Linked DNA regions of Homo sapiens. The protein of the gene in region 1 purifies or fractionates together with the protein of each later gene. This does not show direct contact. Each region holds a gene or a part of one and is shown in the gene's direction. Other genes may lie near its edges.

Region 1 (7,626 bases):
GGCTGAACTGACCAAACAGGATTCTTGCTAAAGGCAGGACACAGCCTTAGACATCAAAGCTGAGGGATGAGGAACTTGATCAGATGTCAAGGGTGATCAGACCCCAAGGACAGCAGGATTCTCCCTAAAAGGAAGCAGGATTCTTTCCTAAAACTGAGCAATGCAGACCTGGCAGGTAGGAGCTGGAGACCAAGGTTGAGGCCTAGTGAAGAAGGCTCAGAGGAGCCTTAAAGTTTCGTTAGAGAGTCTTTTCACTGGATCCAGCTCCTCTGTGACAGGAGGAGAGGGCAGGCAGGGCCACAAGAGCAGGCAGGCTGTCCTGATGGCCTCTGGCTCCAGCTCCAGCACCCACTGATTGAGTGTAACAGGATTCCAGGCAGGAACAGGAACCACTCTCCACAGCCACTGCAGTCTGCTAAAGGAATTGATATTTAAGGTTAGACAAACAGTGACAGGGAAGTCCCAGCAGTGACCTGAATGGGGATTAGAAAGGAAACTCTCACCACACAGAGATGCCAAGGGGATTGCTCTCCCCTCAGAGCCATCTGTATTCTCCTGGGCCAGGCCCCTGCAGGCTGGGACCAGGGAGTTGGGGGAAGTCCCTGGGTGCATCAGCAAGCAACCCGAGTTCCCAAGGAACTCTCCCTGTCCTCTCCACTCGGCTGTGGTTCTCTAGCCATGGCTCTGCTAGGAAGAATGTACTCCTTGAGAAAATAAATAGTAACCTTGCAATCTAAAATCCTAAGTGCTGTTTACACATTGATCCCTGAGCAGGAAACTTCCCAAGGATTCTCTTTCCCTCCATAAAGGGCCAAACTCTCAGACCTCAGATCCTGGGCTCTGTACGCCCTTTTCCTGTAGGGGCTTTGGGCATGCTTCACAGCAAGTACCAGAGTTCATAATAATGTGGCCTCATCCCCATCAGAGCCCAGATGCTTACCAATGGTGGCCAATGGTCCAGGAGTATCTCAGGTCCCCCACAGTTGGGAGCAGGGAGGGGGAAGGAGGAAGGGTGTGCATAAGGGACAAGCTTGACCCCAGAGAACTCGCAGCACTCCATAAAGGAGGATTCTGGGCTTCCCCTTTGAGAAGCCAACAAATCCCGTGGCTGCTCAGTCCCATCTCCTATCACAGACACTGAATGTTAATTGCTCAAAACCCGGATGTGCAGAATCTCAACTCTTGGCCAACTTGATCTAACCACTTGCACTTTAGGTGATGTTTATGCCCTTAGGTATTTATTGGTTATAATATTGTTTAGTGTTTCCCTTTACTGCTTATTTATTATAGAGAACTTCTGTCACTCACCTAATTTCTCACTCTACTAATTCAATCATGGGATCAAGTTACACACGCAACCTGGGAGAACACGGCTTTCTCTTTCATCCACTGGCAGAAAGGAAACATGCCCCCTCCTGGGCAACTGGACTCCTCCAGATTACGAAGGTGCTGGAGGCCCCAGGCTTGGTCCTGAGTCCATTGTTTATCTCTGGGTCCCTGCCAGCCTGTCATTGGAGCTGTAAGCTATAGGAACTAAGTCTCCATCTTTTTTTGAGATGGGATCTCACTGTGTTGCACAGTGTGGTCTGGAACACCTGGGTTCAAGAGATCCTCCTGCCTCAGCCTCAAGAGTAGGTGTACAGGCATGCCATAACACTGGGCTATTGTAAATTTTAACCACACTTAAATGTCACTGCAGAATCAAACTTATCTTGCTGGTTTTGAACCACCAGACACCACCATTTACAAAGCAGCTCACCTTTCCATATGCATGACACATAGAGAAGGCAAAACATTTTCCCAAGGTCACCCAGCAGCTGGAGCAGCTGTCCATCTACCCTAACCTTCCACTTACCATCACCCATACTGGATGCATCTCTTGTAGTTCCTGAGAGTGCCCTACATGGGGGTCTGACTACAAAGATTAGAGTGGCCACTGTATCAGGCCTGTTGACCCTCCCTATAGCTCATTCCAGTGTCCTGACAGAGGATGACCACTGGCGGTGGCATCACATACAGGGAAATAGGCCAGCACTCCAGCTCCCACCCCATACTCCACCCACCACCATATGCCTGTTATGTGGATGACCTGCATCTCCTTCCTAATGATAAAAGATAGGAGAGATTTGTATGTATTTCAGCTTACCCTCTGCACAACACATCCTCCTGAGAGTTGAGACCTAGCGGCCAGGGAAGGTGGGAGCCACAGAGGAGACCCAACTCCCACACTTGGGAGATGACCATTCTGCCCACAAGCACCTGGCCAGGGACTGCCCTCTCTTTCCCTTCTCTGGGAATCTCCCCCAATTTCCTGTCTAACTAGGAGGCATCACGTGCAGCCCTGCTTGAAGACCTTCCCTCCCTCACCCAGCAGTAAACACTATCCCTGGGCCACCTGCTGTATCTGCTGGAGTGCATGGCTTTTCTAGGGGTGCTGGATTCACAGTGGGGTGCAATGGTCACTGGGCCTTGGGTAAAAAGGTCCCCTGTCCTCATACTGAACATGAGCACCCATGAGTAATATTGTTCCCGCTGTCGGGTTCCTGCTGATGCAGCCCCAGCCATGGCGGAGCCCCAGGATTATAGCAGGTCTGGGCTGATCCTGGCCGACCCTCACCTCCACCACTCCCAGGAGAGTCCTCTGGGTGTCCTGCTAAGGCCCAGGGTTTCCTGGTGTTTCTGGCCAAGCCTGCCACCTCGCCATAAGGGCATTTGCCGCAGGATCACCTTCAGGCATGGAGGGGGGGTTGAGAGAACAAAGGGAGCAGCTGTCTGTTCAGAGCCTCCTTCCACCCTCCCTACTCCTGAAGTCACATTCCAGTCCAGGCCCACAGCATCCCGAGCTGGGGGCTTTGTCAGCCCACAGGGCACCCAACTGACCACATCCTCTCAGTCTGTGGAGAAGGAGAACTCTCAATCCTGGCAATGAAGCCACGCTGAGCAAAGGACGAAGACACACCTGGGCTCTCTCTGCAGGATTCCATTCCTGGGAAGCTCAAGGACAGGCAACAAAGGAGTCCACAGGACCAGATGTGGGCTGCCAGGGTCGGGTGGGCATGAGGGTGGGCTTCAGAGGCAGGAGGAAACCATCTGGGGTGAGGCAGATATCACAGGTGTGGACAAAGTGGTAACACAAGTGTATGCATTTATGAAATCCCCCAGATTGGGCACATACAATTAGGCATTTTATTGTGTGTAAATTCTACCTCATTCAATGTAATTTTTAAAATATTACATGAGTTTTCCAAGCAGTGTACAGAGGACCAGTGCTGGCAGCACGTCTCCCAGAGGGGAGGAGCAAGAGAGGCTCTTGGGCTCCCACATTCATCCTGTGGCTGCTGCTCCTTCTCCTGACACCCCCACCACCTGCCAGGGGTCTCCCTGCGCCTTCCACCTGGACACACCCACAGTTACCGTGAGACTCCAGGTCGTTCCCTTCCCTGCTCACACCCCCTCCAGGAGCTTCCTCTTCCTGGAGCAGGCATGCCCAGCCTTGCCTCAGGGCCTTTGCACTGACTATTCCCTGCTGCCTGGGGCTTCTCAACCTTTCCGGTCTCTTAGAGACTTCCCTGACCAGGGTCCAGTAGCACCCACCCTCTCTCTAACTGAGCGACTATAATTCCCTGATCTAAATTGTTGATCACCACTCTGCATCCTCCCACACACCCTAATGGCTGGGCTATGCAGTACCACAGCCACCAGCAGCCACTCGTGGCCACAGGGCACTTGAAATGGGGCTAGTCCACAGTGACGCTTGGTCTAACTGTAAAAAATACACAGGGAACTTCAAGACATTACACTCACACAAAAGAATGTAAACTAGCTCCTTAAGAATAGTCCTGAAGTGTTGAAGTATTTTGGATATATTAGGTTAAAGTAGAAATACCAAAATTACTTTCAGCTGTATCTTTTAACTTTTTCAAATGTGTTTTAAATTGCTCCTGGGTTTCTGTCACATCTCTGTTGGATGGCAGCTCTGCAAGTTCATGTCTACGGCTCTATTGCCCAGACTGCTTGGTGCAGGGGGAAGCTGGTGACAGGTTTGTTTATTGAATAATGAGGAGTTATGAAACGAGAACCCAGTGAACTTTACCCAAAGGTTAATTACTTTATGTTTGGCAAAGAAGTTCCCCAGAAGAGGGCATGGACAAGGTCATCCCGGAGCTTCTGAAACAGCTCCCTGCCCCAGGAATTCCCAGACCATGACCACGTGCTCCTGGATGCCCCTGACATCTGAAGACTTTAGAAGGCCAAGCCCTGTATTTCTCCCTTTCCTGTGGACATAGGTGGTCACCAGGTTTCACAGCCCAGGGAGCGGTGTCACCTCTCTGGAATCCAGAGTGAGCCAAGCTTTAGAGCACTGAGGAAGAGGGGCAGGGCTGTGGGGAGGTTGCGGTCAGGACAGGAGTGGGGAGGAGGATGAGGAGGAGGCATGGGAGGAGCGAAGGGAACTTAGGGAGGGAGGGAGGTGGTTGGGGGTGGAAAGGGAGATAGAGACAGAAGAGGAGGGGTAGAAAGAGGAGGAGGAGCCAGGGGCGGGGCCAGGGAGCAGGTGGGGTTGGGGGACACCCAAGTAGGATAAATGCACAGCTAGCTTCTGGCCTGGGCTTCCTGCCTCAGCCTTCTGCTGCTTTGCTCTCTGGGAGATCCAGCTCCTTGCTCTGTGTCCCAGTAGAACATGATGTGGCCCATGCACACCCCACTGCTGCTGCTGACTGCCTTGATGGTGGCCGTGGCCGGGAGTGCCTCGGCCCAATCTAGGACCTTGGCAGGTGGCATCCATGCCACAGACCTCAATGACAAGAGTGTGCAGTGTGCCCTGGACTTTGCCATCAGCGAGTACAACAAGGTCATTAATAAGGATGAGTACTACAGCCGCCCTCTGCAGGTGATGGCTGCCTACCAGCAGGTGCGTGCTACCACCACCCTGGGGGTCCTGAGTCCCAGCTGGGTTTTTTGCCTCACCCCCCAGAGCACTCCCAGCAAATCAACATTATCTAAACCGCAGACTCATTCAGCTTTCTCTGACTGTCTGCTGATGGTCTTCATGCCCTAGGACACTCCTTGGCCGTGAGTGCATGAGTTCAGCCCTGTCCTGTCCCCTCGGCCTCTTTTAACCTGCAGCAGCCACTGTGTCTGTACCATGACTGTGGCATTTCCCAGGGTCCAGCAGGTGTGGATGGAGACTGTGCTGACTCTGGGTGGGCTTGATGCTGCTCAGGATGAGATCCAGGCCACGAGGTTCATCTTCCTCCCTGAGTCCTCTCCACAGGGGCCACACGGGAACCTGACTCCTTGTCCTGGATAGCCCCGCTTCCCTCCCAAGTCACGCCCCTGGGCACAGCCCGTTATGGCTAGTGGCCTTCACTCTCAGGCTGGCTGACCACCCCCTACAGCCCAGGACAGCTGAGTTCCTGCTGGGGTAGAGCATGCCTGACCCTGCCTCTGCCAGCTAACGCAGAGTTAGACCTCAGCAAAATGAGGACAGCAATCACCCAGCAGAGTGAAGGAGGTGGTTGGGTCCAGAGGGAGGAAGCTTCAGCAGGGCTACCGAGCCCAGCTTGACCTACGTCCCATGGCAGAGCAGCAGTGACACAGCGACCACAGGGCTATATGGCCTGCCAGCCTTTAGAGCTCCTCCACCTTCTCTTGGAAAGTCAGAGGAGTCCAGACCAGCCCTGTTTCTCCTCCTGCAGCCCTCTCCCTGCACAGGAGGGGCATTCCCTGGTGCTGTGGTCCCTGCTGGCCTGCACTCCCTCTTAAGTGTGTCACTCACTGGGAGTGAAGCACAGAATGATGTAGATCGTTGGGCCCTGGAGCCTATTTTACAGAGCAGCAGACTGACACCGGAGGGATCACAGGACTTCCATGTGGTTCTACAGGACTTGTGTGTGGTTCCACAGGGCAAGGTCTAGCACCCTGGTCCCAGGGTCCCTCATCCCATGCTTCTCCACAGTTCTGACAAGTCATGTTTTGGGGCGGCACTGTGCAGGGAAAGCATTCAGTTCTCTTCTGAAGTTGCAACCCTAAGACATGCAGGTGTGTGACTCACTTTAGAAATATTGCCTTGAAAATCACACCTGGAATGGAGGCATGCAGGAGGCAATGTTTATTGGCCTAAAACATCAATGTATGTGAGCATCTCATCTCCTACTGAGAAATGAGGAAAAATACCTCTGGGTTAAATGGCAGGAATGAGATGCTCTGTGGACTGAATGCCAGGAGCTGGAAGTTAGCTGAAATTTCATCATCAGGTGGCAGCCTTCCTAGGATGGGACCAGTGTCCCTGCCCCCTGAGCACAGGTAGCAGAATTCAGTTAATCCTTTGCTGTGGGAAAGAGCATTCACTTGGTGCTTAGACCCTGCCCTGCAAGCCTGGTGCCAGGACTGTTTCTTTGTCCCACCCTGGCTGGTTCCCCAGAGCTGTGCCTTCTGTTCCTGAATCCAGTGAAGGGGGTTTTAGGCCCTGGCTTCCATCTGCCCTGCCCCTGCTTCTCTTTCTACTGGGCTGCATGAGACAGCTTGCTTGAGATACCCAGAGAAAACAAGTTACTAGGAAGGACTGGGACACACTACCACTGCCAGCCAGCAGGAGAAGGTGGCTTGTGTGCCTTTTGGGTGACAGTGTGGGCATGAAGCCCCAGGCAAGCCCAGTGACTCAGTCACAGTGAAGTGCCTGCGTGTGCATGAAACTGACAGCATGCTGCCCCTGCTTCCTGCTCTTCCACGCGTGTAGATCGTGGGTGGGGTGAACTACTACTTCAATGTGAAGTTCGGTCGAACCACATGCACCAAGTCCCAGCCCAACTTGGACAACTGTCCCTTCAATGACCAGCCAAAACTGAAAGAGGTATGTGCCTGATGTGGGTCAGGGGCATCAAGTACCGCAGAGCAGTGTGTGCATGTGTGTGTGTGTATGTGTGTGTGCACGCATCTGTACTCCTGCACATGCTTTGGAGGGCATGTGTGCATGTGTGCAGATATTTGTGGGGCCACGTATGCAAGGATGTATTCATGTGCATGGGAGGATGCATGTGTGTTTGGCACACATGTGCAGATGTGTATTGTGAAGTCAATGAATGTGTTTGTGCATATGGAGTTTTGTGTATGCATGAATGAATGTGTGGGATGGTGTACACATGTGGCTATGCATGTAGAAAGATGCATATGTGTGCATACATGAGGAAGATGCACAGGAGTGTGTGTGTGCATGTGTGTGGATGTGTGAAGGAGTATGTGGGTTCATGCATATATTCGTTTGGGTGAGGGTTGCTGTGAGTTAATATAGATGCCTATGTGTGTGCAGATGGAGTGGTGTGGATAGGGGTGATGAATTTGTTTTGCTAGGAAGACTTTAGCTTGGTAATGGTTACTGGGAGGTCAACTCTGCCTGCTTTGGGGTGTTGTCTGTTGGACTGGAGGAAGAAGCTGCTGGGCTGGGTTCTGGTCAGAAAGAAGGGGCTCTGTCTAACCCCAGCCTCAGGCACCTGCCTGCAGCCACAGCCACTCTGAGCACATTAGAAGGAATTAAATGCCTGTTAGCTGAGAAGCCCTGGACCTGCCCCAGCTCACCCAACATCAGCCTCTCCAAGAACCCAGGATTTCTTTCGAGGTCTCTGCTCAAGG
Region 2 (7,026 bases), on another chromosome or scaffold:
CACATACATGTATGTATACTGACAACTTTTTTTACAGTAGTGGTATCACGTTTAATGTTTTTTAGGAAAATGTCATGGACTTGTACTACATAAGAAGGAGATCTTTCTCACTCGTAGTTAACTGCTGCATAGTAGCCTACTATGAGGCTGTACCATAATTTGTTTAATGATTTGCCTATCGATGGATATTTATGTTTTTATTTTTTCATTATTTTAAGCACTGCTTCTATGGACATTCTCATATTATATAACTGTTTTTGCAAATTTGTTTGAGCATTCCTACGTGATGGATTGCATGAGTAAGAATCATGGGATCAAAGGGAAGGCTACATATTTGAATTTTTATAAATATTACCAGGTTATCCTCAAAGAATAGTGCTTACACTTTCAGCAGTATGTGAGTGAGCCCATTTGTCACATTCTTCCCCACTCTACATATATCACTTTTTCTAATCTTCATTAGTCTGACAGGTGAAATATGTTATCTTGTTTTAATGTGTATTTTTATTAGTAGTAAAGCTTTCATATATTTAATACCTATTTGTATTTCTTATGTACATTCTCTCTTTAGTGTCCTTTATCCTTTTTCCTATTATTAGTTTGATTTGTAAACCCTTTTAAGGGTATCAATCCTTTGTCAGTCATAGATGTTGTAAATATTTTTCTAGCTTGCTGTCTTTTAACTTTATTTATAGTATCTTTTGTTGGTTAAAATTTTAATATCAGGAAATACTAAGTGAACAAAGTGAGAACATTTCTATCTTTTTGTCTGTTCTGGAATCGTTTAAATATGAAAATAATAAACTGCTCCTGAGGCTTCAGTAAATCTCATTAGGTAAAGCTGTTTTGGCCCAGTGCCTTTTAAGAGGGTAAATCTTGGTCTGCAATTGCATTTTTTTCCAGGATTTTTTCCATTTTATTTATTTATTTTTAACCAATTCCTTCTAACCTCTTGGCTGTTTTCAGTTTGTCATTACTATAGATACTACTACAGTGACCATCCTTGTAACACACTCTTTATGACTATGACTTATTGAATCCTTAATTACAATTTGTGGAATTTCTGGATACGTATGTTTTTAAAGGCTTTTCACAGGATTACTATCCAAAGAGAGTATATCCATTCGTTTTCTTACTATCAGGGTATGAGAATGTCTGATTTCCTGTACCTTTATTAAAGTTAGGATGTTCCCTAGCTCTTTTTTTTTTTTTTTTTTTTTTTTTTTTTTTTTTTTTCTGAGGCGGAGTCTCGCTCTGTCGCCCAGGATGGAGTGCAGTGGCGGGATCTCGGCTCACTGCAAGCTCCGCCTCCCGGGTTCATGCCATTCTCCTGCCTCAGCCTCCCAAGTAGCTGGGACTACAGGCGCCCGCCACTACGCCCGGCTAATTTTTTGTATTTTTTAGTAGAGACGGGGTTTCACCGTTTTAGCCGGGATGGTCTCGATCTCCTGACCTCGTGATCCGCCCGCCTCGGCCTCCCAATTTCCCTAGCTCTTAATAGAGGGGTAGATACAGCTCTTCTTGTTTTCCTTCTCCTGTCACCATTTTCCTCACCCAGTAGCCAAGAATGTTAAATATTTAGGGGAAAATTCAACTAAAAAATGGAGTTTTCAGAAATGGAGTAAGGATTCCACAAGGTAATTAACTGCCACCGCCATCATCCCTCTTTATTCTCTGTTAACAAGCTAGAGCTGATGATGGTTCTCTTGTTCCTAAGAACCTCTCAGAAAGGAAAAAGAAGTCAGCTCAAGAGCGTTCTCAGGCCGAGGAGGAGATAGATGAAATTCGCAAGTCATACCAGGAGGAATTGGACAAACTTCGACAGCTCTTGAAAAAGACTCGAGTGTCCACAGACCAAGCAGCTGCAGAGCAGGTAATGGGAAACTGAAGCACTTTGAAAATAGAGGGAAGGTGTGAAGGACTCAGAGAGAAAAGCTTCTGGTTTCTTCCTTACCCTTTAGGATGACATTTCTCATAGCTGATACTCTCACTTTGGAGAAAGGTAGAAAAAGTAATCCAGATATGTGCAGGAGAGCCAGGAATCAAATGGAGAATCTTCTTTCTTTTTTTAAAGCTTAGTTAATATTTAATTACATAAGTAAAAATGAAAAATAGTTTCCTTACAAAAAAAATTCCAAACATGGTAAGGCCAAAACCATCAACCATTGGACACCATCCTTCAGGCACATTATCATCCTTGAAAAGAAGGGATTGATTTAGGTCATCAGGAAGGGAACCAGGGATAGTGGCAGGACACAGCTGGATCTCTAGTCTGTGCAACAGCAACCTTTCTCATTATAAGCTTAAAATTTATATGCATACATTTGTTTAATTAGAGTGCATTGGTGCCCTCAATTTGACCACCTCTGGGAATTTTGGTGAAAAAAAGTTTCTGAACCTATAAAGTTTAGGGTTCAGACCCTGAAAAGCAGTGATCACATGGCCCTGCCCTCCAGGGACCTATCTAGATAGGCACACTTTTGTCTGCTTGGAGTACCTTTTGGAGTCCTGACAACCAATGACATCTTAAGAAGTGCATTTATTTTAAAAGTAATGAGTCTTTTAAACAGTTTCCCAGTTAAATCTGGGCTGTTAGCTTATTCTTTTGCTTTTTGAAAGATGGGTTTCCCTAGGTGCAATGGAATCTCACTCCCCCACCCCCAAGGATGATATGGTCATTACTTTCTCTTGGCAGCTGTCTTTAGTACAGGCTGAGCTACAGACCCAGTGGGAAGCAAAATGTGAACATTTGTTGGCCTCCGCCAAGGATGAGCACCTGCAGCAGTACCAGGAGGTGTGCGCACAGAGAGATGCCTACCAGCAGAAGCTGGTACAACTTCAGGAAAAGGTACATATTTTTCTTGAGTCAGACAGTTTAGGCAGCCCAGTTAATTTGAGGCAAGCAGGCTGTTTGAGTCCTGTCGATCCTTCTAAGCCTGAAAGTTATTAATATCTAGAAGACAAAACCACACTTGTTTAGCTTGTCAGTTATCTTTCACATACTTATGTGGGGTGATAGGTCAGTGACCTGGAAAAAGAGAAAACAGCACTAGTGTTCCGGAACATGTTTCCCATTATTATTGGATCCTTCATTTATTAAGCAAATATTTATTGAGAGTCAGTTGTATTCCATCCAGTGTGTTAAAGGAAGTGCATACAAGGAACCCTTCCCTCATGTATCTCACAGTCAAGAAAGGGAGACAAAGAAACAAAGATAGGTGTTAAGTGCTATGGGGCCCAGAAGAGGAAGTACCCAGGAGAGCTGGGAAGGTTTCCCAAAGGTGGTGACATTTGAGCAGAGCCAAGAAGGACAAATAGCTTTGGTAAGGCAGCAAAGGAGGCAGAACATCCTGGGCAAAGGCACTGAGATAGGATGGAGGCTGGGGTGTGGTGGGATCATCAGGCCTGAAAAAGAGAGATGGGACATGGCTTAGGGTCATGGTGTGAAAGTCCATATTCGAGGTCAGTTTCTTTCCTTAAAGTGTCCAGTTGAAAACTTTTGGCTCAGAGATCTTGGAGGCAATCTTGCAGATGAATGACAAATGGGTTGCTGTTAATGCTGAATGTTTATGTCTAAATGACTAGTTATTACCTACCCTCCTGCTCTTTTTTCATTATATTTTTTACCTGATTGGGAACAAGGCAAGCAACCTTCTTGGGAAAGAGAAAGTGAAGTTTTGCGTTGAAGTCGAATGATGAGGAGATAGAACTCTCTGAGGCAGAGGGTCGTGGGTGGGGGCTGAGGGAGTGGACACCAGCAGACCTAGGCGAGGTTAAGACTTGATGTTTAGAGATTCTGGAGAGGATGTGGAGAAATAGGAACGCTTTTACACTGTTGGTGGGAGTGTAAATTAGTTCAACCATTGTGGAAGACAGTGTGGCGATTCCTTAAGGATCTAGAACTAGAATTACCATTTGACCCAGCAATCCCATTACTGGTTATATACCTAAAGGATTATAAATCATGCTACTATAAAGACACATGCACATGTATGTTTATTGTGGCACTATTCACAATAGCAAAGACTTGGAACCAACCCAAATGTCCATCAGTGATAGACTGGATTAAGAAAATGTGGCACATATACACCATGGAATACTATGCAGCCATAAAAAAGGATGAGTTCATGTCCTTTGCAGGGACATGGTTGAAGCTGGAAACCATCACTCCCAGCAAACTATCACAAGGACAGAAAACCAAACACTGCATGTTCTCACTCATAGGTGGGAATTGATCAGTGAGAACACTTGGACACAGGGCGGGGAACATCACACACCGGGGCCTGTCGGGGGTTGGGGGACGGGGGGAGGGATAGCATTAGGAGAAATACCTAATGTAAATGATGAGTTGATGGGTGCAGCACACCAACATGGCACATGTATACCTATGCATCAAACCTGCACATTGTGCACATGTGCCCTAGAACTTAAAGTATAATAATAATAAAAAAAAAGAATTTGAAATAAAATTGTCTTTTTATTATATGCAAAAAAAAAAAAAAGAGACTTGATGTTTGGGTGGTTCTCCTCCCCTTGGGTTTTCTGACCTTCACCTGGTTCCTGAGGCCACAGCCACAGTCTGTTTGTTTTGCAGTGTTTAGCCCTCCAGGCCCAAATCACAGCTCTCACCAAGCAAAATGAACAGCACATCAAGGAACTAGAGAAGAACAAGTCCCAGATGTCTGGGGTTGAAGCTGCTGCATCTGACCCCTCAGAGAAGGTGAGCTGGTATTTCAAATGAGAAGCAAGCCATTTATATCAAGCATTCAGAAAGAACATGGCCAGTATGTTGTGTTAATAGCTCTTTTTCTAACTTTAGTGATGTTTTACTTGTCTGATGACTTTAAAATGAACCAGATTTGGTGTTTGTTTGTTTGAGACGGAGTCTCACTTTGTCACCAGGCTAGAGTGCAGTGATGTGATCTTGGCTCACTGCAACCTCCGCCTCCCAGGTTCAAGCGATTCTCCTGCCGCAGCCGCCTGAGTAGCTGGGACTACAGGCACGCGCCACCACACCCAGCTAATTTTTGTATTTTTAGTAGAGACAGGGTTTCACCATGTTGGCCAGGATGGTCTCGGTCTCTTGACCTTGTGATCCGCCTGCCTCAGCCTCCCAAAGTGCTGGGATTACAGGCATGAGCCACCATGCCCGGCCCAGATTTGGTTCTTGAGTTTAAGGAGCTTACAGCCTAGTGGGAAAACAAACAAATACATACTTACATATTAAGTGGCAAACCCAAAAGAACCCTATCTTTCTGAGGTTTTGACAGGTATAGGAAGGGCCTCTAACCACAGAAGAAGAATGGGGCTTGGGGAGTGTGCCCAGCATCCACTGGCCTCTGACCCTTAGAGCCTATGGCAGCTCCTAGTGGTGCTCACAGTGGGAGGGGGACATCAAGAAATGGTCTTTAAGCAGTCTTGGGCACACAGACCACAGCTTGCCTGCCCTTGATAGGTAACTCTCATGACTAGCCCTTCTGTCAAAGTGCTGCTCATTATTTAATATCATCCTCTCCACAGTGACAGCCTTCAGTGTCTCTGCTTATGACCAGCAGTATCCCAGTGTAGAGATCTAAGATGGCTTCATTTTGGCCTTCCATACACCTCTCTGGAATTTAATGCATCCTTTAGTGACTTGATTTTGACAGCATGTGTTTTGATGTTCACACAGGTCAAGAAGATCATGAACCAGGTGTTCCAGTCCTTACGGAGAGAGTTTGAGCTGGAGGAATCTTACAATGGCAGGACCATTCTGGGAACCATCATGAATACGATCAAGGTACAGCCAGCCAGCTGTCATTTGTTTCATCGTATTGGGCATTTTGTTGCTTAAGTACCTTCTAAGGGATCATGAATAAAAAATTGTTCAAAGCTGGCACAGTGGCTTATGCTTGTAATCCCAGCATTTTGGGAGGCCAAGGTGGGAGGACTGCTTGAGGCCAGGAGCTTGAGACCAGCTTGGGCAACATAATGAGACTTTGTCTCTACTAAAATTAAAAATTTAAAAATTAGCCGGGTATGGTGGCACGTGCCTGTAGTCCCAGCTACTTGGGAGGCTGAGGCAGGAGAATCACTTGAGCCCAGGAGTTCAAGACTACAGTGAGCCATGATTGCCCCCAACTGCACTCCAGCCTGGATAACAGAGCAAGACCCTGTCTCCAAAGAAAAAAAAAAGAAAATTATTCAGGACTGTTCCTCAGTAATTAGGATGCCTGGAGTGACTTGACAGATATAGTCAGCCTCTTTTAACAGGAAAGAAGCAAAGTCATTTAAACTACATGACCAGTAGTGTTAATAAGAATTAGGAGTGGCTACTGTGTTCCTTTCAGTGACCATCTCTTCCTTGGCTTTTGAATAGATGGTGACTCTTCAGCTGTTAAACCAACAGGAGCAAGAGAAGGAAGAGAGCAGCAGTGAAGAAGAAGAAGAAAAAGCAGAAGAGCGGCCACGAAGACCTTCCCAGGAGCAGTCAGCCTCAGCCAGTTCTGGGCAGCCTCAAGCACCCCTGAATAGGGAGAGGCCAGAGTCCCCCATGGTGCCCTCAGAGCAGGTGGTCGAGGAAGCTGTCCCGTTGCCTCCTCAGGCCCTCACCACTTCCCAGGATGGACACAGAAGGAAAGGGGACTCAGAAGCTGAGGCACTCTCAGAGATAAAAGATGGTTCCCTTCCACCCGAACTGTCTTGCATCCCATCCCACAGAGTTCTAGGGCCCCCGACTTCAATTCCACCTGAGCCCCTAGGCCCTGTATCCATGGACTCTGAGTGTGAGGAGTCACTTGCTGCCAGCCCAATGGCAGCTAAGCCCGACAACCCATCAGGAAAGGTCTGTGTCAGGGAAGTAGCACCAGATGGCCCACTACAAGAAAGCTCCACAAGACTGTCCCTGACTTCAGACCCCGAGGAGGGGGACCCACTGGCCTTAGGGCCTGAAAGCCCAGGAGAGCCTCAGCCTCCACAGCTCAAGAAAGATGATGTCACTAGCTCCACCGGTCCCCACAAGGAGCTGTCAAGCACAGAGGCAGGTTC

The links. Proteins that work in one complex are often made in the same cells at the same time.
Region 2: the proteins of CST5 (region 1) and FKBP15 purify together in Homo sapiens (co-immunoprecipitation; 2 studies listed by BioGRID and IntAct, with this or other methods). This does not show direct contact.

What each region holds. Positions count from the first base shown.
Region 1 is NC_000020.11:23,876,729-23,884,354, reverse strand, and holds the start of CST5 (cystatin-D precursor), read left to right. Parts: upstream 1-4,606; 5' UTR 4,607-4,678; coding exon 4,679-4,909; intron 4,910-6,736; coding exon 6,737-6,850; intron 6,851-7,626.
Region 2 is NC_000009.12:113,169,275-113,176,300, reverse strand, and holds part of FKBP15 (FK506-binding protein 15), read left to right. Parts: intron 1-1,717; coding exon 1,718-1,873; intron 1,874-2,695; coding exon 2,696-2,848; intron 2,849-4,594; coding exon 4,595-4,720; intron 4,721-5,671; coding exon 5,672-5,779; intron 5,780-6,358; coding exon 6,359-7,026. UniProt on the Homo sapiens protein: May be involved in the cytoskeletal organization of neuronal growth cones. Seems to be inactive as a PPIase. Involved in the transport of early endosomes at the level of transition between microfilament-based and microtubule-based movement.